Linked DNA regions of Homo sapiens. The protein of the gene in region 1 purifies or fractionates together with the protein of each later gene. This does not show direct contact. Each region holds a gene or a part of one and is shown on either strand. Other genes may lie near its edges.

The links.
Region 2: the proteins of PDCD6 (region 1) and MAP1B purify together in Homo sapiens (affinity purification with mass spectrometry; one large-scale study listed by BioGRID and IntAct). This does not show direct contact.
Region 3: the proteins of PDCD6 (region 1) and KCTD15 purify together in Homo sapiens (affinity purification with mass spectrometry, with the first as the bait; one large-scale study listed by BioGRID). This does not show direct contact.
Region 4: the proteins of PDCD6 (region 1) and ARID1B purify together in Homo sapiens (affinity purification with mass spectrometry, with the first as the bait; one large-scale study listed by BioGRID). This does not show direct contact.
Region 5: the proteins of PDCD6 (region 1) and HNRNPUL1 fractionate together in Homo sapiens (co-fractionation; one large-scale study listed by BioGRID). This does not show direct contact.
Region 6: the proteins of PDCD6 (region 1) and CHERP purify together in Homo sapiens (affinity purification with mass spectrometry, with the first as the bait; one large-scale study listed by BioGRID). This does not show direct contact.
Region 7: the proteins of PDCD6 (region 1) and TFG purify together in Homo sapiens (affinity purification with mass spectrometry, with the first as the bait; one large-scale study listed by BioGRID). This does not show direct contact.

What each region holds. Positions count from the first base shown.
Region 1 is NC_000005.10:306,146-309,645, forward strand, and holds part of PDCD6 (programmed cell death protein 6), read left to right. Parts: intron 1-456; coding exon 457-615; intron 616-3,500. UniProt on the Homo sapiens protein: Calcium sensor that plays a key role in processes such as endoplasmic reticulum (ER)-Golgi vesicular transport, endosomal biogenesis or membrane repair.
Region 2 is NC_000005.10:72,187,475-72,190,974, forward strand, and holds part of MAP1B (microtubule-associated protein 1B), read left to right. Parts: intron 1-3,500. UniProt on the Homo sapiens protein: Facilitates tyrosination of alpha-tubulin in neuronal microtubules. Phosphorylated MAP1B is required for proper microtubule dynamics and plays a role in the cytoskeletal changes that accompany neuronal differentiation and neurite extension.
Region 3 is NC_000019.10:33,799,870-33,803,369, forward strand, and holds part of KCTD15 (BTB/POZ domain-containing protein KCTD15), read left to right. Parts: intron 1-558; 5' UTR 559-585; coding exon 586-651; intron 652-1,297; coding exon 1,298-1,473; intron 1,474-3,500. UniProt on the Homo sapiens protein: During embryonic development, it is involved in neural crest formation. Inhibits AP2 transcriptional activity by interaction with its activation domain.
Region 4 is NC_000006.12:156,783,878-156,787,377, forward strand, and holds part of ARID1B (AT-rich interactive domain-containing protein 1B), read left to right. Parts: intron 1-3,500. UniProt on the Homo sapiens protein: Involved in transcriptional activation and repression of select genes by chromatin remodeling (alteration of DNA-nucleosome topology).
Region 5 is NC_000019.10:41,302,372-41,305,329, forward strand, and holds part of HNRNPUL1 (heterogeneous nuclear ribonucleoprotein U-like protein 1), read left to right. Parts: intron 1-293; coding exon 294-578; intron 579-1,600; coding exon 1,601-1,890; intron 1,891-2,958.
Region 6 is NC_000019.10:16,521,938-16,525,437, reverse strand, and holds part of CHERP (calcium homeostasis endoplasmic reticulum protein), read left to right. Parts: coding exon 1-196; intron 197-2,147; coding exon 2,148-2,386; intron 2,387-3,500. UniProt on the Homo sapiens protein: Involved in calcium homeostasis, growth and proliferation.
Region 7 is NC_000003.12:100,729,994-100,733,493, forward strand, and holds part of TFG (protein TFG), read left to right. Parts: intron 1-2,514; coding exon 2,515-2,679; intron 2,680-3,500. UniProt on the Homo sapiens protein: Plays a role in the normal dynamic function of the endoplasmic reticulum (ER) and its associated microtubules. Required for secretory cargo traffic from the endoplasmic reticulum to the Golgi apparatus.

The DNA.
Region 1 (3,500 bases):
ACCAGTGCTGTGGGCCCTGGAGAGTCAGAGGGTCAGCTCTGGGAATTAGATTCGCGTTCTAGGCCGAGACCCAGGAGCCAGGGGAGCTGGGGCCACTTACCTTCCCCGTGCCTCGGAAGCTGAGTGTGAAGCTCTGCTCTTCTTTCTGTCGTGGCTGCGGCTGGATTTCCTCACACATCCCATTGCACGGCCTGCCTCACAGCTGCAAGTGCACCTTCTCCTGGGACTTAGGGGGTCAGGGCTGGGGGACAATCCCCCACACCCCCACCCAGGGCGAAGGTGACAAGACTTTAAGGGATTTCACCCCATTCACAGACAGGCATGCATTGCCCAGTCCCTGGTTAGTGGTCAGCAGTGGGGCCCCGCCAGGCTCTGAGGGCTGAGGTCTGGTGGGAAGCCTCAAGTGAGTTTGCTGCAACTGATCTTTTGCTGCTTGACCGTTCCTCTCTGTCTCAGCCATGTTTGACCGTGAGAACAAGGCCGGCGTGAACTTCAGCGAGTTCACGGGTGTGTGGAAGTACATCACGGACTGGCAGAACGTCTTCCGCACGTACGACCGGGACAACTCCGGGATGATCGATAAGAACGAGCTGAAGCAGGCCCTCTCAGGTTTCGGTAACTCACTCACTCTGGCTTGTGTAGCGTGTTTCATTTTGGAACCTTGGAGCCGTTGAAGTTCTTTAAACCTTGTTGGACTTAACTGATTGTCTAACCAGGCTACGTAAAGTTTTTGTTGACGTCATGCAGGTTCATATTTGATATTGCTCATGTCGGAAGGCGATCCTCGACATGGATACGTTTATTCAGGTTTTTATCCAAAATGAGATAAGGGCTATGCAAGCCGTTCATCTTTTCTGAAGTGGAATGATGTCGTGAGCAAAACTGAGAATGTGGCTTTTGAAATCATTTAAAAGTGGATCCATGAAAATACCGTGGGGCAGGGCAGCTTATATTTCATGATAGATCAAAGCACGTTGAAAAGGCAACAGTCACCTAAGAAACAGCTGTCAGTCACCAGGTCCAAACCGTGCGCCTCAGAAGGGGCGTTAGGCAGAACGCGTGCCCATTCTCAGGTGTGCTCGGCGTGTGTGTGCTCGGCGTGTGTGTGCTCGGCGTGTGTGTGCACACGTGTGCCGTGCGCCTCAGAAGGGGCGTTAGGCAGAACGCGTGCCCATTCTCAGGTGTGCTCGGCGTGTGTGTGCTCGGCGTGTGTGTGCACACGTGTGCCGTGCGCCTCAGAAGGGGCGTTAGGCAGAACGCGTGCCCATTCTCAGGTGCGCTCAGCGTGTGTGTGCTTGACGCGTGTGCACACACACATGTGACGGTGTGCCGTGGGTCTAGGAGTGTTCACAGTGCCTGTCCAGAGTGCGTCCATAGGGCCTGTCCACGGGGCTTCCCGTGCTGCTCTCAGGGCTGAGAGGAAGCAGGGGTTTTATTTACAGAGGAACAACGGGCATGTTTGGGGCCAGCCTGAGGCTGTTGGTGGCTGCACCGAGATTCTAATCCATGCGGATCTCATCTGGCCCCTGTTGTGAAGCCGCTTCCGTGATTTGCTTAAAAGGCTCCTTAGAAACAGTGAGGAAAATTCGATTCTACTTGAGTACCTCCGAGATCCCTGGAGTCTCACTTATCTAAGCACGTCGCCTCTCCTCGTGTTTCCTCCCAGCATGCACTTTGTGGCTGCCTTTCTTTCTCTTTTCTTTCTCACCTTACGAGCTTGTCCACAGGGCCGGGGGTGGACACTGGGTCTCCTCAAGAAGCAGTTCTGAGCTGACCAGCTGCGAGCCAGGATTTGGGCTGGATGGCTCTGAATTGGTACTTGGAATGCAGCTGACCTTGCTGTGCCCTTGGGTGGGGGAACTGGAGGGAACGCTGGCCGGCTCCTCTTCCCTGGGGCAGGTACGGAAGGGCTGGGAGGGAAGGATGCCACCCTCCACAGAGAGTGGTCCTGGGGGCCAGGGAGGCCAGTGCTGCCGATTGCGGCCAGGGCCACGTGGACTTCAGGACCGGCCTGAAGTTATTTTTAGATAAGCGACCTCTGGCGCCACGGACATCTTTTCCTAACCTTGTCAGGCCCTGGAGCTCCCTTTGTCCATGCCAGTGACCATCGGTCCTCAGAATGTGCAGTGGAAGTTGCTGTGGACAGTGCTCCCTGGTCTCTGAGGCCCTCTTCGTCCTGGTCTGGCCAAGGACTTCCCAGAAAACTGTGCTTAGCTGTGGCGGGAGGCACGGCCGGTCACGCAGCCTTCCTCCCGCCCTGGAGTGGGCAGGCCTGCTTGTGTTGTGCAGCGGCAGAACCCTTCCTGACTTCCAGGTTTTTCCTGGGGTGCGGCATCCCATCGCAGCATTTTCTCTGGTTACCCTCACGAGTTTCCTCCTGCGTTTGGTTCTTGATCTCCAGGGCCATCTCCCACGTCTTCCTTGGAAAGGGGCATTGTCATCCTTTTTGTATTTTGATGATTTTGAAAGATTTCCCATAGTAACTGTTAGGAAGTTGGCCTCAGAAGCAAAAATTCTTCTTTTGTCTTGGCCCCTGTGAACAAGTGTTCTGCTCTCAGATGAAGCAGGGAGGCTGCACTGGAGCTTGGTGGCCAGCAGGAGGGAATCACCAGGGTGGTGAAGCCTGCGAGATTTCTCCCCGGGTGTCTCTGATGGGGCCACATGGTGGATTTCATAATCCACCGATTCGTTTTTTTAAGCCTTTATTGTTAACATCAACTGTGTGCCATGCTCAGAGACCTGAAGTGAAAAGGTGAGGAAGGCGTGCTCACATTCCAGCACTCACCACCCGGCACCGGGACAGCTGACTCAGCACGTGCCGTTTAGGTTGCTGTAAACAGCCGGTGAGATTCTCCCCTCTGGTGGGCAGTGCGTGTCTGACAAAGGCAGTCGGGCGGAGAACAGTTCCTCCGCTGTGGTCCTTTGCCACTGTACCAGGCCCCCAAGAGCTGGGGGGAGCCCCAGGGAGCCTCAGCCTGTTGAGTGGGGGCAGCTGGTTTGTCCTCCGAGGTGGAAGAGGTGATTTCTGAGGAGGTCATGCTCCGCTTGGCTCGTTCACAGCATTTCAGAGAGTCCGAAAGAGGAGAAAGACCTTGGCAAGGGGTGTGTCAGGGGTGGGCCCAGGGACGCTGGTGGCCTCATGTGGACTGACTTTCATGAACAGAAACTCAGAAACAGTTGCTTCTGGATTTTGGCTTCTCAGATAAACATTCTTTTTGTAGTTCGTTTGTTCATCCCTCATTTTGCTGTCTGACTTTGCCTTTCTTTTCCCTTCACTATTACTGATGACCAAGGAAACTGGAAGTTAATTCCAGAGGCAGTGGGGTTGCTCCTGTTGTCTGTGCAGACTGGAGTTCCTCTGCCTCTGTCAGCATCTCCTCTGTCCTTCCCCAGCCTTGGCAGGAGACCAGTAATGACCTCTGTCCCCGTGCACCCCAGTGATGGCCGCCGTCCCCGTGCACCCCAGTGATGGCCGCCGTCCCCGTGCACACCAGTGAGGG
Region 2 (3,500 bases), about 72 Mb from region 1:
ATCTAGCTTACATGTTTATAGCAATTACAGAAACAATTCAGACCCATCCCCATAGCAGGTTGGGGCCTGCCTGTGGCCGATAGCAGATTTCTACATGGAGGGACTGAGGGATGTTCTGATAAGAAGAGTCCCCACATCTGTTTAAAACTGTCTTTCTGAGGTGGTGGCTTGTCTGTCTCATGTGTACTGTGAAGGGCCACGTGTCCTTCTGCACTTAATTTTCCTTGGCCCTGAGGTTCAGAGAAAGCTCTGTTTGTACTTTTCATCACTGGCAAGAACTGTAAGCACACTGCCCAACTTCATCTGAGTCACCTGGAGGCTTCTTTAAAAACACTGATCAGAAGGCATAATAATGTTCACTCTCCAGCCACTGGGGTGGGGAGAATGTAAAACTGTGAAAAGGAACATTTTTGAAGCCACAGCTGTCAGAAGGTGTGGCGTCATCTGCATCTTGAAACACATACCAGGATGGGATCCCCCAGGCAGGCAGCTCCTTTCTCAGAGGCTTCAGAGCTCACTCACAGTTGGTTCATCTTTACCACTTCAAAATGCAAGCTTTGGCTGTGTCTTCTTCCAAGGCCGCTAGAGTTCACGCATCTTGCCTCATTCATCTCGGTATCCATTGCACCTGCACATAGTAAAGGCCTAGTAAGCCGCTGTTCAATTGCATTGAAATTCCAAAGCTAGGGCTACAATTCTCACTCTGCCTACTGTCCTGAAGTTGTTGTTTGATCACTATAATGTCAGAATGTTTTGCAAGATTATGTCCCCATGTGCATGTTGTACCCGGAGGCAGGTGGGCATTTGTCTAGTAGCTCTGGGGTCACACACATTATTAGCATCTTGCCTCAGGGAAGAGAGAAAGCTGCAGAAGGCTGGAAGTGGCCCAATGACATGGTGAGCAGTTAAGTGGCCTGCTTATAGCTCATTTGCATGCACATGGGCACTTTCCACATTCCTGTGCAGTTCTGTAGTTATTTTCTAGTGGTTGGTTTCTACCCAAGTCATTGGTTTGTCTTTTTTGCCGAAAAACCAGACAAAGGAAATATGTAAAGAAAAGTGTCATTGCCAAGATTTTCAATAAGGAAGTAACACGATTTGGCATATTTGCATCTCAAATAATATCCCTCCTTCCCCTTCTTTAAATAAGGTTGTTATGAATATTGCTGCTTAATCATTTTTACTAGATTATGGAAGCAAAATTTTAGCACCATGGACTGTGCACGTGTCAGATTTTGCCACTAATTACAGAAAAAAAAATTTGCCCTAACTGAAGAACTCGAGTTCCGTGGAAGGGCAGATTCCCCAGGGTTTATACTTATTGGGGTAGGTTCTGGAGGACACATATTTTGATTATACTCAGGCAGGTATCATTATGGTCAGAGACCATGTCATATTCTCTTCTGCCACCCACAAAGAAAGGATGCCACAGCTAAAGTGAATTGAAAACCACTGGACTGGACCAGTGGTTATCAGCCTTTTGGAGCTAGGATTGCCCATTGTTGCCTTGGAAAAATGGTTGAGTAACTGAATAACAAACGGACCTTGAAGACCACTTGTTGTCCAGCTCTTTTCCTTTTATCCAGTCCTTGAAACATACTAGTTAACTCCAGGGAAACCAAAACCACAATTTGGGACAAACAAAAATGATACTTTTTAAAAAATATAAGAACAGCTAAAAATAAATGGACTGAAAAAATAGAACTATCAGTACACTTTGAGCTTCAGGTTTTGGAGTCTTAATCACTGGAGATCAATTAACAAAACCAGAACTAACAGACGGTACAATTGTCTGGCTAACCCCACTCCTCCCTGAAATCCAGGGATGGTGAAATCATCATCTCCTGGGGACATTTTTCAGTCTCTGTGTTGGAAAGTTTTTCCTTATTTGTCTCATTGTATCTTCAAGGAAGTGATGTGATCCCTTTCCCACCTACAGTGTCTTAGTTACCCTTCACCAACACTGCCGATTTTTTCCCTTTCAGATTAATCATCTTCAGTTTTACCCACAGTTCTTCATAACCCTGCTCACTGTCCTTCAAACTTGTTCCTCTGTCAAGAAAGGGAGGTGAAGGCCAGGTGCTATGGCCCATGCCTGTAATCCCAGTACTTTGGGAGGCCAGAGTGGGAGGATCACGTGCGGCTAGGAGTTCTAGGTTGCACTCAGTTATAATCTGCACTGCACTCCAACCTGGGCAACAGAGCAAGATTCTGTCTCTTAAAAAAAAAAAAACTATACTTAAAACATTAAAAAAATAAAATAAAAAGAAGAGGAGATGGGATGGGTATGGGGGGAATTCAGGAGTTTAGTCCTGGTCATGTTTTAGTGCCTTGAAATCAGACAGTTGGATTTATGAGAACAGAGCTCAGGGAACTCAGAGTCGGGCTGGAGATACTAATTTGAAATCCATTAGCATATTAGAGGTATTTGAAGCCCAGAAGACACATGATGTGACCTAGAGTGAGAAACATTTTAAGAAGAGAAAGGGCCCAGGTCCAGTGTTGACAGGTCATAAGGCCAAGAGGAAGGAGCCAGTAAGGGAGACTTGTTTCAGGTTTTTGCTTGTTGGTCTAATTTCTCTAAAATGTCATGACTCAAACTGGACACCCTATTCAGGAGTCATTTGACCAGGTTAGGATTGTGAGAGTTGATAATGTCTATAGTTTTCAATACCATCTTCTATTAAAGAAGTCTAAAAGTGACTTTTGACCATCACCATACACCATTAATGGTCAATGGGGAAGTCAATGGGGAAGAGATGCAGGCTTTGAGGGGCTCGACAATTTATATAATTTAAGGGCTCTTTTTTAAGAAAAATGAAACAATTATTAATATACAGTTAAGTACAGGGCCATGCCAATGAGGTACCTTGAAGTTTAAGCTTCTTTGGCTTCATGATAAATCCATTTGACTGTCAACTAAAATCCCTGAGTCTTTTCCATGGATATTATTGTTAAGCCACATCTCCCAATCCTGTAGTTTACCCTGCTGGTTTATTGAACCTTACATTTATCCCTTTAGAATGCCATCCTGTTAGAATTGACTTAGCCACCATCATCCCAATGTCAAGAGCTTTTATAAATACCTTAATTCTGCCATTCCACATTTTGCTGTGTCTCCCATTTTCATACCATGCACAAATATGATATGCATGCCTTCGCCATTTTTATCCAAGTGAATACAGGCCAGAAAATGAGACTTGAGGCAGCCCATCATAGACCTCCCTCCAGGTTGACATTAAGCAGCACTATTTATATGGCTGGCTGGAAATCCACCTAATTCTACTATCACACTGTTCAGGGGTCCTATTAAATGTCTGGCTAAAACCCAGAGATACACTGTCTACTGTATTTCCTCATCAGCCAAGCAAGTAACCTAATCAAAAAGGAAATGTAGTTCGTAGGCCATGGTTTAGAAATTCAAATCTTGTTTCATTAATCTCATCTGCAGTAAAACCATTTATTTCTTACATCTTCCTTCCTCTTCCAGTATGCCTGCA
Region 3 (3,500 bases), on another chromosome or scaffold:
TTGCCCTCATCCATGTGCCTGGACTTCTGCTGAACGGCTTCCCTGTGTCTGGCCAGATGCAAGCTGTATCTTATCACCATGGGGATGGTATTAAGAGAGGTCCTAGGTTCCCTGGCCCATGGAGGGTGAGGGGTGCTTTCTGAGCCTTGGTCCACAAGGCTGTTGCAAGAGGAGACACGCTTGGTAACATGGCTTGAAAGGAAAATACCAGGAAAATCTGGTTTGTTCTGAAATATTTTGGGGCAATAATGGTGAGCATATGTTTCAGTGCTGTCATTAGCCGAATTAGCAGACATGGAGCTGCCCAGAAAACACATGTGTGAGTGTGACTGTGTGTGTGTGCATGTATGTGTGTGTCATCTGCTACAGCCTGGAGGCCTGCTTTGGGGTGTGGAGACAGATAGAGAGATAGTGGCGGTGGAGTCAATCAGGGAGGGCTGCATGGACCTCGCAGGGTCTCAGAGAGCATGCAGAAAGGACAATTCTAAGTGTCTTTGACCCCATGGTACATGACTAGGAGGAATAAGCCTTCTCTGGTTTTGTCGATGCCTCCCGCAGATACTCTGGGCAGGGATGGAAGCCTAGATGCCTCACCGCAAGGAGCGGCCGAGCGGGTCCTCGCTTCACACACACGGCAGCACCGGCACCGCGGTGAGCCTGCAGGGTGGGCTGGGTCCCTGCCGGGAGTTCCCTCTTTCCCTTCTTCCCCAGTGCCTGTTTACTGGCTGTCCTTCCTTGGGACCATGACACTCCAGGTGGCTGTTGACTGGCTGTAGGATTATGTATTTTTGAAACAAAAATGCTCTTAATTTGATGTGAAATTTACTACATGTATAAAACTCAACGCCTTAGGTGCTGAGGAAGTCACTAATTTAGAGGTGTCTCGTTACTGAGACAAACTTGCAAAAAACCCCTGAATCCCAATTCACAAATTGGTGATTCGTTTGTCAGGGGATATTTCACATCTAACACATAAGCCCACGACCTTTAATTAGAATTTTGCAGTTTGTTTTATGCCCCTGGAGGCTGACACCTTGAAAAATTTTTTTTCTTGATTTCTTATTGCTAATAAGCATCTTTCTTTTTCCCTCTGGTACTTTGAAGAAAATGATGCAAATACACTTAATTACAGTGGTGGCCATAATTTGTCAGCTGAATATATGATCAGGCACGGGCAGAAGTGATCTGATTAGATCTGTGATCACACTCTCAATAAAGGGAGTGCATGGCTGTGTTGTGGAGAAACTCTTGTGTTCCGCTTTGAAACTCTTGTGTTCCGCTTTGTTTCCATCTCTAGGAGGGAGGAAACATGTCCCGGCTGTCTCTCACCCGGTCGCCTGTGTCTCCCCTGGCTGCCCAGGGCATCCCCCTGCCAGCCCAGCTCACCAAGTCCAATGCACCTGTGCACATCGATGTGGGCGGCCACATGTACACCAGCAGCCTGGCCACGCTCACCAAGTACCCTGACTCCAGGTAAGAGTAAGCCCCTTGAAACATCAGGCATGTGTGGGTCAGGGCAGCATCTGTAATCTGCTGCCTAGGGGGTGGGGTCTCTCCCCACTGTCACTCCACCCACCAGGGTCTCCAGGGTGCACAAGCTGACACAGCCTGAGGGAGCTAGGGTTGGGGAGTCCAAGTCTGCCTGTTGAAAGCTGCTATGCACAGAGGCTTGTGACCCTGACTTGGCGGCATTGGTAGTGCAAGGTGGAGCTCCTGACCCACCTGCAGGGGACTAGGGCTTATTCAGAGCCAGCCCAGCCTGAGCCTGCCGGCAGCGGGCAGGGGAGTCTCACGTACCTTCAAGGTTCCTCTGGAGGGAGACTTAGGCCCGGCCCCTGCAGGGGGTCATTTGTGAGTGATACTGAGTAGGTAAGTCTTGGGGGCATGGGGGTGGGTATTTAATCCTATTTTCTATTCCACCCCTGGGAAATTCACAAGGGGAGGGAAGAGGAGCTGTGGTGAGCTGCAGTGTGCCATCTTTGTCATTTTCCGTGGCCACTGCTGGGCCCTAGAGGCTAGCAGCAGGCTTCCCTTGGAGCTGGTGCTGCAGTGACTAGCTAGGAATGAATCACATACCTCATCAGTGGATAAAGGGTCTCTGGCCAGGACCCTGGTTGGGGGCTCACAGGCACCCTCCATGCTGCTGAACTTATAGGCTGCCCAGGCCCTTGGGCCTGCGAGAGGTTTGGGGTGCTGGGTGCTGCCAGCTCTCCTGCTCTTCCTTGCAGGGTGTTTCTCTCCTGGGTGAGGGACCTGCTTTCCCCGTTGGCACGGCAGCAGGGCTGACCCGAGTAGGGTGGGTCTTGAGCAGCTTGCTCAGCCGAGGATGTTTGCTCCTGGCACAGAGAGGCGGTCATCGCTCCCCTGGGGCTGCTGAAGGCTGAGCGTGGGAGGGCCAAGGCTGTGGGCATCACCCCTGTGTTATGCATTTGAAATAACAGGAGGAGTTAATTAATCCCCCAGATACTGAGGGATCATCTCTGGGGAGCATACACGGCAGGCTGCATTGTCACCGGTGTGGTTCCTCAGAGCAGGGAGGATGGTAGTGCGCAGAGGTGGCTTTCCAAGCCTGTTGGGGCTGCAGGGGAGCCTGTGCAGGTGCAGGCATGGTCCCTTGAGGAGGAAAAACTGGAAATGGGTGCAGTGTCTAGTTCCAAATTTGGAGAGTCTAGGGTACAGATGGTGACTGGTGTTCCAGTACCCCAGGTGGACAGAGACTCAGCCTGGGGCCCTGTGGCCTTGGGGCTTGTGGGGTGGGGACAAGAGCCACGGGGCCAGGTCAGCAGTGTTGGCCTGTGTGCTCACTCACAGAGCCCTGTCTAGGATGGGAGATAGATTCTGCTTATTTAATTTCCATTTTGCCTTCTGCGGCATTTCTGAGTTGTTTGAGATAGATCATCCCTTAATCGGTTGACGACGTTTGTGAGTGAAATTCATAAAACCTTTGCCCACAACCCTCTCTGAAGAGTTTCCTGAAATCAGAGAGTTGCCTGTCTGGAGTAATCACAGCCCAGGCCCTGGGGGAGGCGGGTGGGAGAGGCTTCTCATTCTGGGCTCTTGGCTGCTGCCTGAGAGCAGGAGGGCAGGGGGCCATCTCCCCCCACCCAGCCCCACTGTGCTGCTCACCCATTGCTTTGTTCTGCTGTGGGATGTGCTCTCATGGGGAGCTAGGGCCCCTGTGGCCCTGTGATCTGGCACTTGGGACCCTCCTGGTGTGCCCAAGGGGTGGCAGTCTATGTTTATTCTTCCCCAGGGCTGGGGCTCAAGGTGAATCTGTTGTTCTGCCTGGATGGCCTCTGGCTGCTGTGGGGGTGCTCTGTAGGCCTGAAGCTTTGGACTAGAGGCCAGGGATGGCTGACCTGCAGGACAATCAGGGGACAGGAGGCCAGGGGGCCTGAGAAGTGGGTCAGGCAGCTGTGCTGGCAAGAGCCCCTCAGATCTCTCTTGTCCTTCCTGTAGTGGATTATTATAATATAAGCAGTTTTCTACCAATTCTGGAA
Region 4 (3,500 bases), on another chromosome or scaffold:
GGACTGATATTTCACTCGTGTCACTTTTGTTTTGGAGTGTATGTGTAGATTTGTAAATTTGAGATTGATATTTATGTTTGATAGAAGTGTGGTGTGTTGCATAAAATGACAGATTTATGGAGGCTGAAAATATTAATAAAACTTAATTCCATTTTTTTTTTGCAATATTTAGGTTTTCCAGTTGGATGTTATAAAATTTTTATGACATTTTACACTGCTGTTATTACTCAAGGGGCCGTATCCACCTCTTAGGCCTTTTTGGGATTGGGTGGTTTTGGTTGCATGCCTTTTCGGAGGTGCCCTTTCCTGAATGGGAGGGAGGTTTTTGCAGGTTCTCTGTGGATATGTAAAGTAGTGCCGCACGCTTGCTGTGTGTGCTTGCTTGAGGCTGAGGAATCCCAAACCCTGTTCCCTGTCGTGTCCGGGAGAGGCACCAGGCAAAACTGTTCCTCTACCAAGAATATATTTCTGTATCATAGATGTAGAACTATTATAAATATCTTTTCTCTAGCTTGGAGGCTATTTGAATGAGACTCAATGGCCCTTTTGGTTTAATTGGGTAATTGAGTGAATTAATTCTGATCTAAAAACTTGGTGTACTTTAGCAACTTTTTCTTCAGGAAATTTGGTAAAGATAAAATGACTTAGGTATCAGTCATTACCTGAGTGTCCTAAGTATTCATTTGTTTTTCCTTATACTGACATCTGAATGAATGGAATGATAGACATATACTATATAGTTTTAATTAGCAATTCACTTTGAGTGAGTGAATTTTTTCAGAGTAGAATATGTGTTTCCACTGTAAGTTTTCACTAAATATGTTCTATTTTCAAAATCTTTGACTTGGAGTAATTCTAAGAAAATTCTTTCCTTACATTTAGTTATTTGTTTTTCTTTTTGAGACAGGGTCTCACTTTGCCACCCAGGTTGGAGTGCAGTGGCGCGATCTTGGCTCACTGTGGCCTTGACCTCCCAGATTCAAGTGATTCTCCTGCCTCAGCCCCGCAAGCAGCTGGGACTACAGGTGCACGCCATCACACCTGGCTAATTTTTGTATTTTTCGTAGAGATGGGGTTTCGCCATGTTGCCCAGGCTGGTCTCGAACTCCTGACCTCAAGTGATCCACCCTCCTCGGCCTCCCAAAGTGCTGGGATTACAGATGTGAACCATCCTGCCAGGCAAGATTTACTTACTTAAATAGGATCCAGTAGGCAGTTTTCAAACCCACATCTGTATGGATCAATGCCAAGAATATTAGAAGGCTACTGAGTTTGACAGATGAACTAATGATGAAATTAACTTGTTTCTTGGATGAGATTTATTACCAGGCACCAGACTAAAGCCCTAAAATCTTAAGCCTATCTGGTTTATGAATAGCTACTCTTATTTCCATTATTAAAATCAGGTAGATGGCAGCAGAATCTGGAGGAGATTCACCCTCTGTTGACCATCTTCTGTAAGGTGCACTTCTCAGTGTCTTCCTGGGCCTTGATGAATGATGAGCTGGAGAACTAGACCAGAAGCCATTCCTTATCAGGTGACTCTGGAAGGGAAGCCATATTTGATGAAATCCAGAAGAAATCCTGGACCATAATGCTACATTTTTTCTTTTTTTGTAATGGGATGCTAAAAAATTAAATATATGGTTTTTTTTTTAAATAGAGGTAAGCTATACGTACATAACATACAACTTACCATTTGAACCATTTTTAGGCATACATTCCAGTGGCATTAAGTACATTGTCATTGTTGTGTGGCTGTCACCATCATCATCTATCCCCAGAACTTTTCCTTCTCAAACTGAAATAAAAATATTTTTCTCTTTCTTTTAAAATTGTTAGCTGCTAATGTGTATTGTAAGTAAAATAATCTTGTTTTTGTAACCATTAATCTTATCACTTCATAGTTTGTGAGTAAATTCTTCCGCAGACATTCCATCAGGATGCTAATGGTTTTTTTGTTTGTTTGTTTTTGTTTTTTATTAGTACATTACTTCCTCTCAATTCTAACTTTGGGGTAATCCTCATAGAGTTTGAGGATCTCTTTGGAGATGTGTATTACAAAGGTTAGTAGTTTCACTGCCAGTTATGTTATTAAAATTTTGAAAAGCAGCTTTTTGGAACCTTTCTAAAGTTTAAAGGTTGAGGGTATTTGTTGAGAGAAACCTGGGACTTGGTTAGATAATAGGGTGTGGAAATGAACTGTTACCATTCTCACTTTTCCCTTGCTTTTCTTCCCTCACCTTTTGCATTTGTAGTCTCTTAAAAATTATTAATTTTATTTTCCCACTATTAGTGAAAATCATTTATAGTGATATTTTTTTCTATTCTTTCTGTGTTTGAAGTTTCTGGGCATCTCACCCCTACCAACCCAGAGCAAACCCAGAGTCTAGGTGGTGCCATGTCCTTTTCCATAGTGTTCTCTGCCACCAAATTTGTGCCTCCCCCTCATGTTTTTACTTTTTAGTCCTCTGCAAAACTTCAGAAATTCTTTGTATGTGGAAAAATTACTAAATTAAGATGATTGACCTTTTAGAATTACATTTTAAAGGCAGCTGTGAAGGGAGACTTCTAGATCCTGCCTAGTCTCATGAACAGGCGTCTTTGGTTTGTGTAAGGTATTGGAATTGTACTGGAATTGCTGCTGATGCTGATAGGTAGTCACATCTTTGTAAGATCAGTTATGTACTTTAACACCAGCTTCCACAGAGAGGAAATGAACTGTTACTTAAGAGCTTGTACTGGGAAGCAATAGTTATTTCTTTAAGGTGTAAACATTTAGCATTTGTGTATGCAGTGAGGTATATGTTAGATAAATATCTACTCCAGACAGTCAATTGGCAAATATTTATTGAGCTCCCACTTTCTTAATCAGCCCTGTGCCAGAGACAGACAATAGCTGGGGTCTGGGGATTGCTGCTGTTGGTGTGCGGATCATGCAGAGATACTGCTAACGCTTGCTCCCTCCATACCTGGATCGTGGTATTGCTGACATCATTGACTTAGAACTGGCTCATTTAAACAAATTGCAGATAGCAACCATGTGGGTCAGCAGTCTATTTGGCCTGCTTTTTTTTTTTTTTTTTCCGGTGGGGCAGTATATTTTGGCAAAACAAAATCTGGTCAACAACAATTGTAGGTTGTTGTGATATAGTTGATGTGATCTAGTGACTCTTTTCCATTTCTACCAATCAGTTACTGGCTTTGTGCCAGAGCGAAATATAGATTCACTACCGAGAATAATAACTAAAAGAAGGAAAATATAATCACTTTCAAATTTATATAGAATGGTCCTTTTTCTTTTTCTCAGTTTTCTACATTACATAGATTCTTGGAAAAAAAGTTAAAACAGTCTGTTCAGATTTAGGAAGATACTTGGATTGCTGGGGTATTTTTGGTAACTGTTTAGATAATGTATGCTGGCTGAGGAGTAAATTCAGCTACTGCTTCTGGGTCCTGAAATAAACCTTTCAGAAAGCGAGGCATTGATGATTAGTGGA
Region 5 (2,958 bases), on another chromosome or scaffold:
CCATGCCTGGCTAATTTTTGTATTTTTAGTAGAGATGGGGTTTTGCCATGTTGGCCAGGCTGGTCTTGAACTCCTGACCTCAGGTGATCCACCCGCCTCGGCCTCCCAAAGTGCTGGGATTACAGGCGTGAGCCACCGCGCCCGCCCTTCTGTCTATGTCTTTCTTATTCACTATTCCAGTTTTCTTCACCTTCTCCCTTCTGGAAGGCCACTCTTCTGGGTGGAGGGGACCAGACTTCAGAAGGTACTGACCTCTTCTTCTTGTTCTCTTTGGGGCACTTCCTTCCTCCTAGCCAACTTCACGTTGCCAGATGTTGGGGACTTCCTGGATGAGGTTCTGTTCATTGAGCTGCAGCGGGAGGAAGCGGACAAGCTAGTGAGGCAGTACAACGAGGAAGGCCGCAAGGCTGGGCCACCCCCTGAAAAGCGCTTTGACAACCGAGGTGGTGGTGGCTTCCGGGGCCGCGGGGGTGGTGGTGGCTTCCAGCGCTATGAAAACCGAGGACCCCCTGGAGGCAACCGTGGCGGCTTCCAGAACCGAGGGGGAGGCAGCGGTGGAGGAGGCAACTACCGAGGAGGTGAGACATCTCACACACAGCACTCTCCACTTTCTGTTCCCAGGTTGGGGCTGGGCTTTGACTGCTTATTCAATCAGCAACTGAAGTTTTCTGAGCTCCAGCTGTGAGTTATACTCTGGTAGAAAACTTGAAACAAGTCAGACACGGAGACCTCAGAAACGCTCCCACTTTCCCACTCCCTGGACGCTGGTTATGAAGCCCTTTGCCCATTTGCATATCACAGTGCACATTCTGTCACATTGCTGTCATTTTTGTGAACCTTCCCCCATCTGACCATGAGCTCCTTGGAAATAGGATCTAGATCAAAATCTATTGGAAATGGGGGCTACATCTTTGGCCAGGTCTGAAGAGGACTAGATGTGACTCGTTCATGGCTGTCACCAGTGCTTAGCTTCCTCTCATTTTTTTTTTTTTTTTTTTTGAGACGGAGTTTTGCTCTTGTTGCCCAGGCTAGAGTGCAATGGTGTAATCTCGGCTCACTGCAACCTCTGCCTCCCGGCATTCAAGCGATTCTCTCGCCTCAGTCTCCTGAGTAGCTGGGATTGTAGGCAAGCACCACCACGCCCGGCTAATTTTGTATTTTTAGTAGAGATGGGGTTTCTCCATGTTGGTCAGGCTGGTCTTGAACTCCTGACCTCACGTGGTCCACCCGCCTTAGCCTCCCAGAGTGCTAGGATTACAGATGTGAGCCACCGCACCCTGCCAGCTTCCTCTCCTTGAGCATCTCCTTCCTGCATATTCAACAGCTATTGAGATGCTGGGACACAGAAACCCAGGACTGCCTTGGTCTCTGCCTCACCATTCTTGCAGTCCAGTGAATGAGACAAACCTGTCATAAGGGCTGGGACAGGGGAGTATGCCCGGGGGTCTAGAGAATCCCAGAGGACATGCTTTGTTGTTCACCTTGAGTTCTTGCTCTGCGCCTGGCCATGCCGGCTCACAGTAGTCACCAAGACAACCCAGTTCCCTGGGGTTGCCATTTGGGAATGATGGCGCCTTTCATCTGGATTTCTCCAACACAGGTTTCAACCGCAGCGGAGGTGGTGGCTATAGCCAGAACCGCTGGGGTAACAACAACCGGGATAACAACAACTCCAACAACAGAGGCAGCTACAACCGGGCTCCCCAGCAACAGCCGCCACCACAGCAGCCTCCGCCACCACAGCCACCACCCCAGCAGCCACCGCCACCACCCAGCTACAGCCCTGCTCGGAACCCCCCAGGGGCCAGCACCTACAATAAGAACAGCAACATCCCTGGCTCAAGCGCCAATACCAGCACCCCCACCGTCAGCAGCTACAGCCCTCCACAGGTGAGAGAATGAGTGTGTGTTTGTATGTAGTGATCGCACGTGTGCTTTTGAACCTGAGCAAGTTAGGTGGAGGCGGATCTGGGGAAATCAACACATGCCCCAGCTACTGGTCTTCACTCTAACCTCTAGCCTGCCCTTCTTTCTCCCTGGCCGTGATCTTGACTCAGATGGACCCTACACATTCCCAGATCCCCTCCAAACCCAGGAGTAAATGTAGACCTTCCCAGAACCTGCTCTTCTCCCACCACCCTCAAGGGGATGGGCTGTAAGCACTGATCCCTCCAGCAAGTACATTATTCTTGGCTAGTGTCACTAACCTCACTAAATCCCCAAGAAAGCACTTGACTGGAGTCACCCCTTGCCCAGGCTGGCTGACCTCTTTGTCTTTTGGACATAATAACCAGGGCACTAAGGTTGCTGAGGACTTGCCCTCTGCACAGAGAGCTTCAATCCTGAGCAGCTCCAGGCTCAGTTCCCATTCTTGGAAAGCCAGTGCCCTGGCTCTGGTATGCACAGGCTCCTGTAAACCAGAGAGGTTTTCAGTTATCGCACAGCCATTTCCCAAGCACTTTCCTCATGCCGGGCCTGGAATCAGCTGCCAGGAGACCAATGGATGGTTCCCAGGCCCAGCTAACTAGAATATTTCTTAGAACAAGAGTTGGGCAGGCACAGATCCAAACCCCCAGCCCCACAACATCCTGTTTCTGTGAGCTTGGACAAATAGCTTCCCGTCTCTGGGCCTCATTTTCCTCATAAAGGTGTTAGTAGAAGTCCCTTCCAAGGTTTGTTGTGAGGAATGGGTGGCACTATAGCTCTGGGACTAGGCAGACCTGGGGTCAAGTCCTTTTTCCTTGGCCCAGAAATTTCATCTTGAGCCTCAGTTTCTTTCTCTTTAAAATGGGGCTAGTGGGACCTACCCCTAGGTTCTATATGGAGATTATATGATGTAATGATCCAACCTGTACTTGGGAAGCACTTAGTCAATTGCCACTACTGTTTCTCAGCAGATCTTCCAGTAACAACTACCACCACCTGTTGAGTACCCAGTGGTTTATACACACAAGCTTA
Region 6 (3,500 bases), on another chromosome or scaffold:
ATGCAGCGGCCCCCACACTTCCGGGGGCCCTTCCCGCCCCACCAGCAGCACCCGCAGTTCAACCAGCCTCCGCACCCCCACAACTTCAACCGCTTCCCGCCCCGCTTCATGCAGGACGACTTCCCGCCACGGCACCCCTTCGAGCGGCCGCCCTATCCCCACCGCTTCGACTACCCCCAGGGGGACTTCCCTGCCGGTGAGTGTACGGGCGCCTGGGTAGGGCCTGGCGGAGGCATCCACGGCTCGCCTGCCGAGCAGGCTGGTGGCGCTGCTTGTGGCCCTGCCATGCTCCTGAGTGCACAGTGACAGACACAGGGTCATGGGACGTCCGAGGAGCCCGGCCTGGGTTCTCAGGAAGTGGGGGCACAGACTCAGTTTTGCCGCCCTGATGAGGCCCGGCTGGCTGCAGATGAGGCAGAGCCAGTAGGAAAAGGTTCCTGCCGTGGGTGGGCGTGGCGAGGGCAGGGCGGGGCCTCGTTCTTTTTACTGCTGCTGCTTGTTTTTTGCATCAGTTTTCCCGTTGTATTAGTTCGTTTAAAAAATCAATACTTGGCGTGGTGTCGGGCGCCTATGGTCCTAGCTGCTCAGAAGGCTGAGGTTGCGGTGAGCTGTGATCGCACCACTGTACTCCACCCTGGGCGACAGACCGCTGTCTCAAAAAAAAAAAACAAAAAACTACTTTTCTTTTTTAAAAAAATTTTATTTTATTTTAAATAGAGATGGGGTCTTGCTATGTTGGCCAGGCTACTTTCAAACTCCTGAGCTCAAGCAGTCATCCCACCTCAGCCTCTAGAGTAGCTGGGTCTACAGATGTGAGCCACCATGCCTAGTATCTTTGTTATTGATTTTATTTCTAATCTTTTAGTACTTTTTTTTTTTTTTGAGACAGAGTCTCACCCTGTTGCCCAGGCTGGAGTGCAATGGCACAATCTCAGCTCACTGCAACCTCCGCCTCCCAGATTCAGATGATTCTCCTGCCTCAGCCTCCCGAGTAGCTGGGATTACAGGTGTGCGCCACCATGCCTGGCTAATTTTTTGTGTCTTTAGTAGAGACAGGGTTTCACCATGTTGCCCAGGCTGGTCTCGAACTCCTGACCTCAGGTGATCCGCCCGCCTCGGCCTCCCAAAGTGCCGGGATGAAAGGTGTGAGCCACCTCGCTTGGCCTTTTGTTGTTGTTGTTTGTTGTTTTTTTGAGACTGAGCCTCACTGTCACGCAGGCTGGAGTGCAGTGGCACAGTCTCGGCTCACTGCAGCCTCCTCTTGGGTTCAAGTGATTCTTCCACCTTGGCCTCCTCAGTAGCTGGGATTACAGGCATCAGTCACTATGCCCAGCTAATTTTTGTATTTTTAGTAGATGGGGTTTCGCCATGTTGGCCAGGCTGGTCTCAAACTCTGGGCCTCAAGTGATCTACCCGCCTTGGCCTCCCAAAGTGCTGAGATTACAGGCGTGAGCCACCATGCCCAGCCTTCTCTCTTTAAATACATTTCTGATTATAAATGCAGCTTGAAGACCGCTTGGCACATTTATTGCTTTTACTTTTTGGCTTGGGCTGACATGATAAGTCCCACAGCCTGGACGGCTTCAACAGCTGGAATGTATTGTCTTAAGGATCTGGGGGCTGGAGGTCCAAGGTGGAGGTGTGGCGGGTTCAGGTTAGTGTCTTGGAGGCCTGTCTCCTTGGCTCATAGGTGACCGTCTTCTCTCTACATGTCTGTGTCCTAATCTCTTATTATAACGGCAACAGTCACGTTGGATTCGGGCCACTATGGCTTCATTTTAACTCATTTGTGTCTTTGAAGGCTCTGTCTCCAAATACAGTTCCGTCCTGAGCTACTGGGGGCTGGGACCTCAGCGTATGGATTCGGAGGGTCACAACTTAGCCCTCACCGTGCAGTTTTGGGGTTTTGGGGTTCTCTTCTCTCAGCCTCAAGCTCCCTCGGCTGTGCCTATGGGTGCGGGACAGGCCCCTCGGAGCCTGGCTCCTCGGTGCCTTGCTGCCTGGTCTTAAGCAGTGAGAGAAGATGCTGGACAGGCTCCCAGGAGGGGTTCGTCTCCTGGCCCTTCACTGAGCCCCTCCCCTCCAGCACTTGTCGCCTGGGAGATCCTGACTGGCCTGTGGTCCTGAGGCAAGTCTCTGTTTTGCAGAAATGGGGCCCCCTCACCACCACCCTGGCCACCGCATGCCTCATCCTGGCATCAACGAGCACCCGCCTTGGGCTGGACCCCAGCACCCTGACTTCGGCCCTCCCCCCCATGGCTTCAACGGGCAGCCCCCACACATGCGGCGACAGGGCCCACCCCACATCAACCACGATGACCCCAGCCTGGTCCCCAATGTGCCCTACTTCGATCTCCCTGCTGGGCTGATGGCCCCCCTCGTGAAGGTAATGCCCCACAGTGGGCTCCAAGCTGAGCACGCTTACCATACTGGTCCCCGTTTCTCCTTGTGAAAAGTGAATGCACGGGACCGGGTGCCTTCCGGGGCTCCCCTTCATCTCCCACTCCCTAGGGACCCTGATCCGTCAGTGGGAGGTGCCGAACCGGAGTAGCACGGTGTGGCTGTGAGCGACACCATGTCTGCCCTGCCCTGCCCCTCCTATCCCTCCCACCACAGGGAGCTTCAGCCATGTGGGGCTAGCTAGGCTATGAGGCTCGAGTCCTCTCTTCGTCCTTCTTGGTCCAGGGCCTCAGAAGCACCTTGTCCCAGGGCTGCTGATGGAGGGAATGTCTTAGAAGGAGCCACCTGTGAGCTGTGCCTACCAAGCACACAGGGAGGGGGGTGGCCCTGGAGAAGCCGGGCAGGGCTGGCAGCAGCTGGTACCACTGTGGGATGGCCGGAGCATAGGGCAAGAGGTGAGGCAAGAAGGGGCCAGGTCTGGCCAGGCGTAGTGGCTCACACCTGTAATCCCAGCACTTTGGGAGGCCGAGGCGGGCGGATCACGAGGTCAGGAGATCGAGACCATCCTGGCTAACACGGTGAAACCCCGTCTCTATTAAAAAATACAAAAAATTAGCCAGGCGTGGTGGCAGACGCCTGTAGTCCCAGCTGCTCGGGAGGCTGAGGCAGGAGAATGGCATGAACCCGGGAGGCGGAGCTTGCACTGAGCCGAGATCACGCCACTACACTCCAGCCTGGGCGAGAGCAGGACTCCGTCTCAAAAAAAAAAAGGGGGGGTTGGGGAGGCCAGGGCCGGGGCTTGGGGCCTCCAAGGGCATGCTGGCCACTGCCACTTCCCACCCCCTCAGACACATCCACCTGAAGTCCAGGCAGACTTCACGGAGCCATGGGCAGCAGGGAGAGCTGCGGGCGGGGGCCCAGGCAAGCCAGGCAGGGCAGGGCCTCAACAGGAGGACAGAGACGGAGCAGAAGAAGGATACAGGCCAGGGGGCTCCAGGGCCGGGGCTGAGGCTGTTCTGAGCGGGGGCCCAGGGTAGGCATTGCAAGCAAAGGGTGACGTGAGGGGCCCGCTGCATGTCTGAATAAACCAGAGGGTGTTC
Region 7 (3,500 bases), on another chromosome or scaffold:
ACCTTTTATATTTCAGGTCAAAGAAGGTTGCCTATTCTGAGCCCTACCTCTCCAAACAAAAATTTCCAATTTTAGATCAAGAATCAATGAAAAAGTTAGACAATTTTTCCAGAAGAATTCATAGATGCTGACACAACATTTGCATATAATTTCAGGGGATTTAACCATCTGCAGAATATTAAGAAGTGTAGATGAGAATTTAACCAGTATAGCCAATACTGTTCAGAAATTAGCTACAGTGGCCCACATTCTACTCTAAGGAATGGATTTATGAGTTTTTTGCTTTAGGTGAAACTTTTTCCTCACCTCTTTCTTGCTACTGTTTATACTTTATTCTTTGTGTCTATATTTTTTATACATACTGTTAGCTTTTTACCTATGTTAATGTAAAAGGTGTTAAAATTGGTTTCTTCTCTGCATTTTGGAAATCATGCCATATGTTGTTTTCTTGTATGGCCATTTTCTAGTTATTGTGTCCTGTCTGACATATCTGATGATAAGATGATATAAGAATAATACAATCTGCATTATATTTTTAGAGATAGTTCTTATTTTTTTAGAAAACAAAAACAACAAGAAAACCATACATCAGAAACTGAAATCTAGTCCACAAAATGAAATTGCCAATCAGCTATCAGTGCTATTTAGAACCTGTGGCTTACCCTCACCAAGAAATGTGGCCACCTGTGGTCTTCAGCTCTCTATTACAGCGGTTCTTGGATGCTTGTTTTCCTTTAAGAGGCAAATGATGTGTAAACTACCTTAGATAGAAGATTGACCTGTTGCAGTATCTCCAGCAGCTAATGGAGCAAGTAGTAGGACGTATAGTATGTTTCCTGATGGTTTTAGTTTGTGATAAGTGAAAAGAGGCATAGGTAGTGAGATGTGAGGGGAAACAACTTGTAAGACTGACGTGGTATGCTCTTGGGATTAGAGGAAGGAAGTTGGTAGGGAAGATAGATAACTGGTAGACATGTTTTAAAGGAATACTTCTAGTAGTAGTTTTCTTTTTCCAAACATTTAGAAAATATTAGGGTAGCCTGGAATGGTATGTTAGGAATGAATGAGCTGCCAGCCAGTGTGTGCTGTGGGTACTTATATTCGGTTTAGCACTTAACATTTTTTTCAGAAGATACATTTTGTATTGATTACAGGGGTGATCTAAGAACTGATGTTCATTTACTTGCTTGGTAACAAAAGTGATAATCATTGTCCCTTAATTGAGTAAATGGTTAGCAACAGTCTTTTTGTTTACTTGTTCGTGTTTTTTGTTTGTTTCTTTTGATGTCTTTTGTATCTTGGACTTGGATTCCTATTTGTAAAATGTATGTTAAAATTCTTGAACTCTTTTTCTTTCACAAGACAGTAGTATAAATGCCTGTGGAATATCTTAGTATCCTGAGAAGAAAAGCATGATTTTAAATTTAACCTGCTCATAATATTTGACATTTTGTTTTTCTGTTGTTGTTTTAAACATTTTATTATAGAAAAGTTTAAGTATATAAGAAAGTAGACATTATAATGAATCCCAGAAACCCACATCCAGTTTCAACAGTTACCAACTTATAGTATCATATAATTACACTATACACATTTCCGCCCCTCCTGTTACCCAGAGTGGAGTACAATCTCAGCTCACTACAAACTTTGCCTCCTGGGTTCAAGTGATTCTCGTGACTCAGCCTCCTGAGTAGCTGGGATTACAGGCATGCATCACTGTGCCTAGCTAATTTTTGTATTTTTGGTAGAGATTGGGTTTTGCCAGGCTGGTCTCGAGCTCCTGACCTCAAGTGATCTACCCACCTCGGCCTCTCAAAGTGCTGGAATTACAGGCATGAGCTGTTGCACCCGGCTCCCCTCCTGTATTATTTTGATGCAGATCCCATATACATCATTTCATCTGTAAGCATTTTAATAAGTATTTTAATAAGTAATACATATTAAAATAGAAGGTAGCAAATTCAAAAATGTTTTTAATGTGCTATTTATGGAAGATTATGAATTAATTATGGTTGGCTTGATTTCCATGTAATTTAATAGTGGACCAGTAGACAGTAGAAATAAAATGTAAAATTTGAGATTATAACCTTAGTTCAGTTTCTTTTTATAAAATAAAGCCTTAGTTCCTATAATTATTATTTCCAGAGTGCCCAGTGGGTATCTGATACTAGGATATAGGTTATTGGGCTCCAAAAAAACCAAAAAAAGTAAAATGTTTCTCTTTATCAAGGAGCTTGTATTTTTTTCATCTAATGTTTCTTACAAAAGGAGGTAAATAATTTTTTTGGAAAGCTTTTGTTCATCTTCTGTTTCTTTTTGCCCTCTTCTCCCTGTTACTAGAAGGAAAAATATAAAAAAAATAAAGGAATTAAAATGATCTGTAATCCTATATTCCGACATGCTTAACATTCCAGACTATCATTATACACCTGCATTATTTCCCTTGTACTTTTAGGCCTTACTGAATATAGATAAAAAGGAAACAAGTTTTTGTTTATTCCTCTATTTTTACAGATACTGTGGATGGTAGGGAAGAAAAGTCTGCTTCTGATTCTTCTGGAAAACAGTCTACTCAGGTTATGGCAGCAAGTATGTCTGCTTTTGATCCTTTAAAAAACCAAGATGAAATCAATAAAAATGTTATGTCAGCGTTTGGCTTAACAGATGATCAGGTTTCAGGTAAGTTGGTTTCCAACTCCTTTACACCCTTCGTTTCCTTCATCTTTCCGTTCTTCCCTTTCCTTCTTTCTTTAATTGAAGAATAACTTGGATATGGTGAAGTGCACAAATCTTAAGGGTTCTGCTTAACAAATTTTTACATATGTGTACACTTATGTAAAAGACTAACTAGATTAAGATGTAGATGATTTCCAGCACTTCAGAAAGCTTTCTTATGTCCTCTCCCCAAGAGTAGCACCCTCCCCCTTAAAGAATAAGCACTGTTGGGTTCAAGTAAATTTTTGAAAGTAAAATTTAGAAAGTTTTTAAAAATCTGAACTATTTTATAATTTGATTAGTTGCAGTATTCGAATTATATTTGATTTGTCTTATCTCCTCATCTTAGAGAAATTGAAAATTAAATGTAGATTTTCTTGTTAAATTGCTTGAGTATACAGTGGGTTTTTATATAAATAAGTTTTTAACCTTAAAGCAGTACCTATATTGTTTTATTCTGTTTAACTTTTGGTTATAATTTCTTCATTATTTTTTCCTGCTTTTTCTCTTTTCGGATTCTAATAACACATACATTGGAGAGCTTGATACTGTCTCATGGGTCATTAAGGTTCATTTTTCTTCAGTCTTCTCTCTGTTCTTCAGGTTGGGTGATTTCTGTTGAACTCTTCAAGGTCGCTGTGATTTCTAATATGCTGTGGAACCTTTCTAGTGAATTGTTTAATTGTGCTTTCAGCTCTAGAATTTCCATTGGGTTTTTATAGTTTCTGTTTTTCTGTTGAGATTCTTTATTTTACATTCATTAAGTCTATATTTTCCTTTAATTG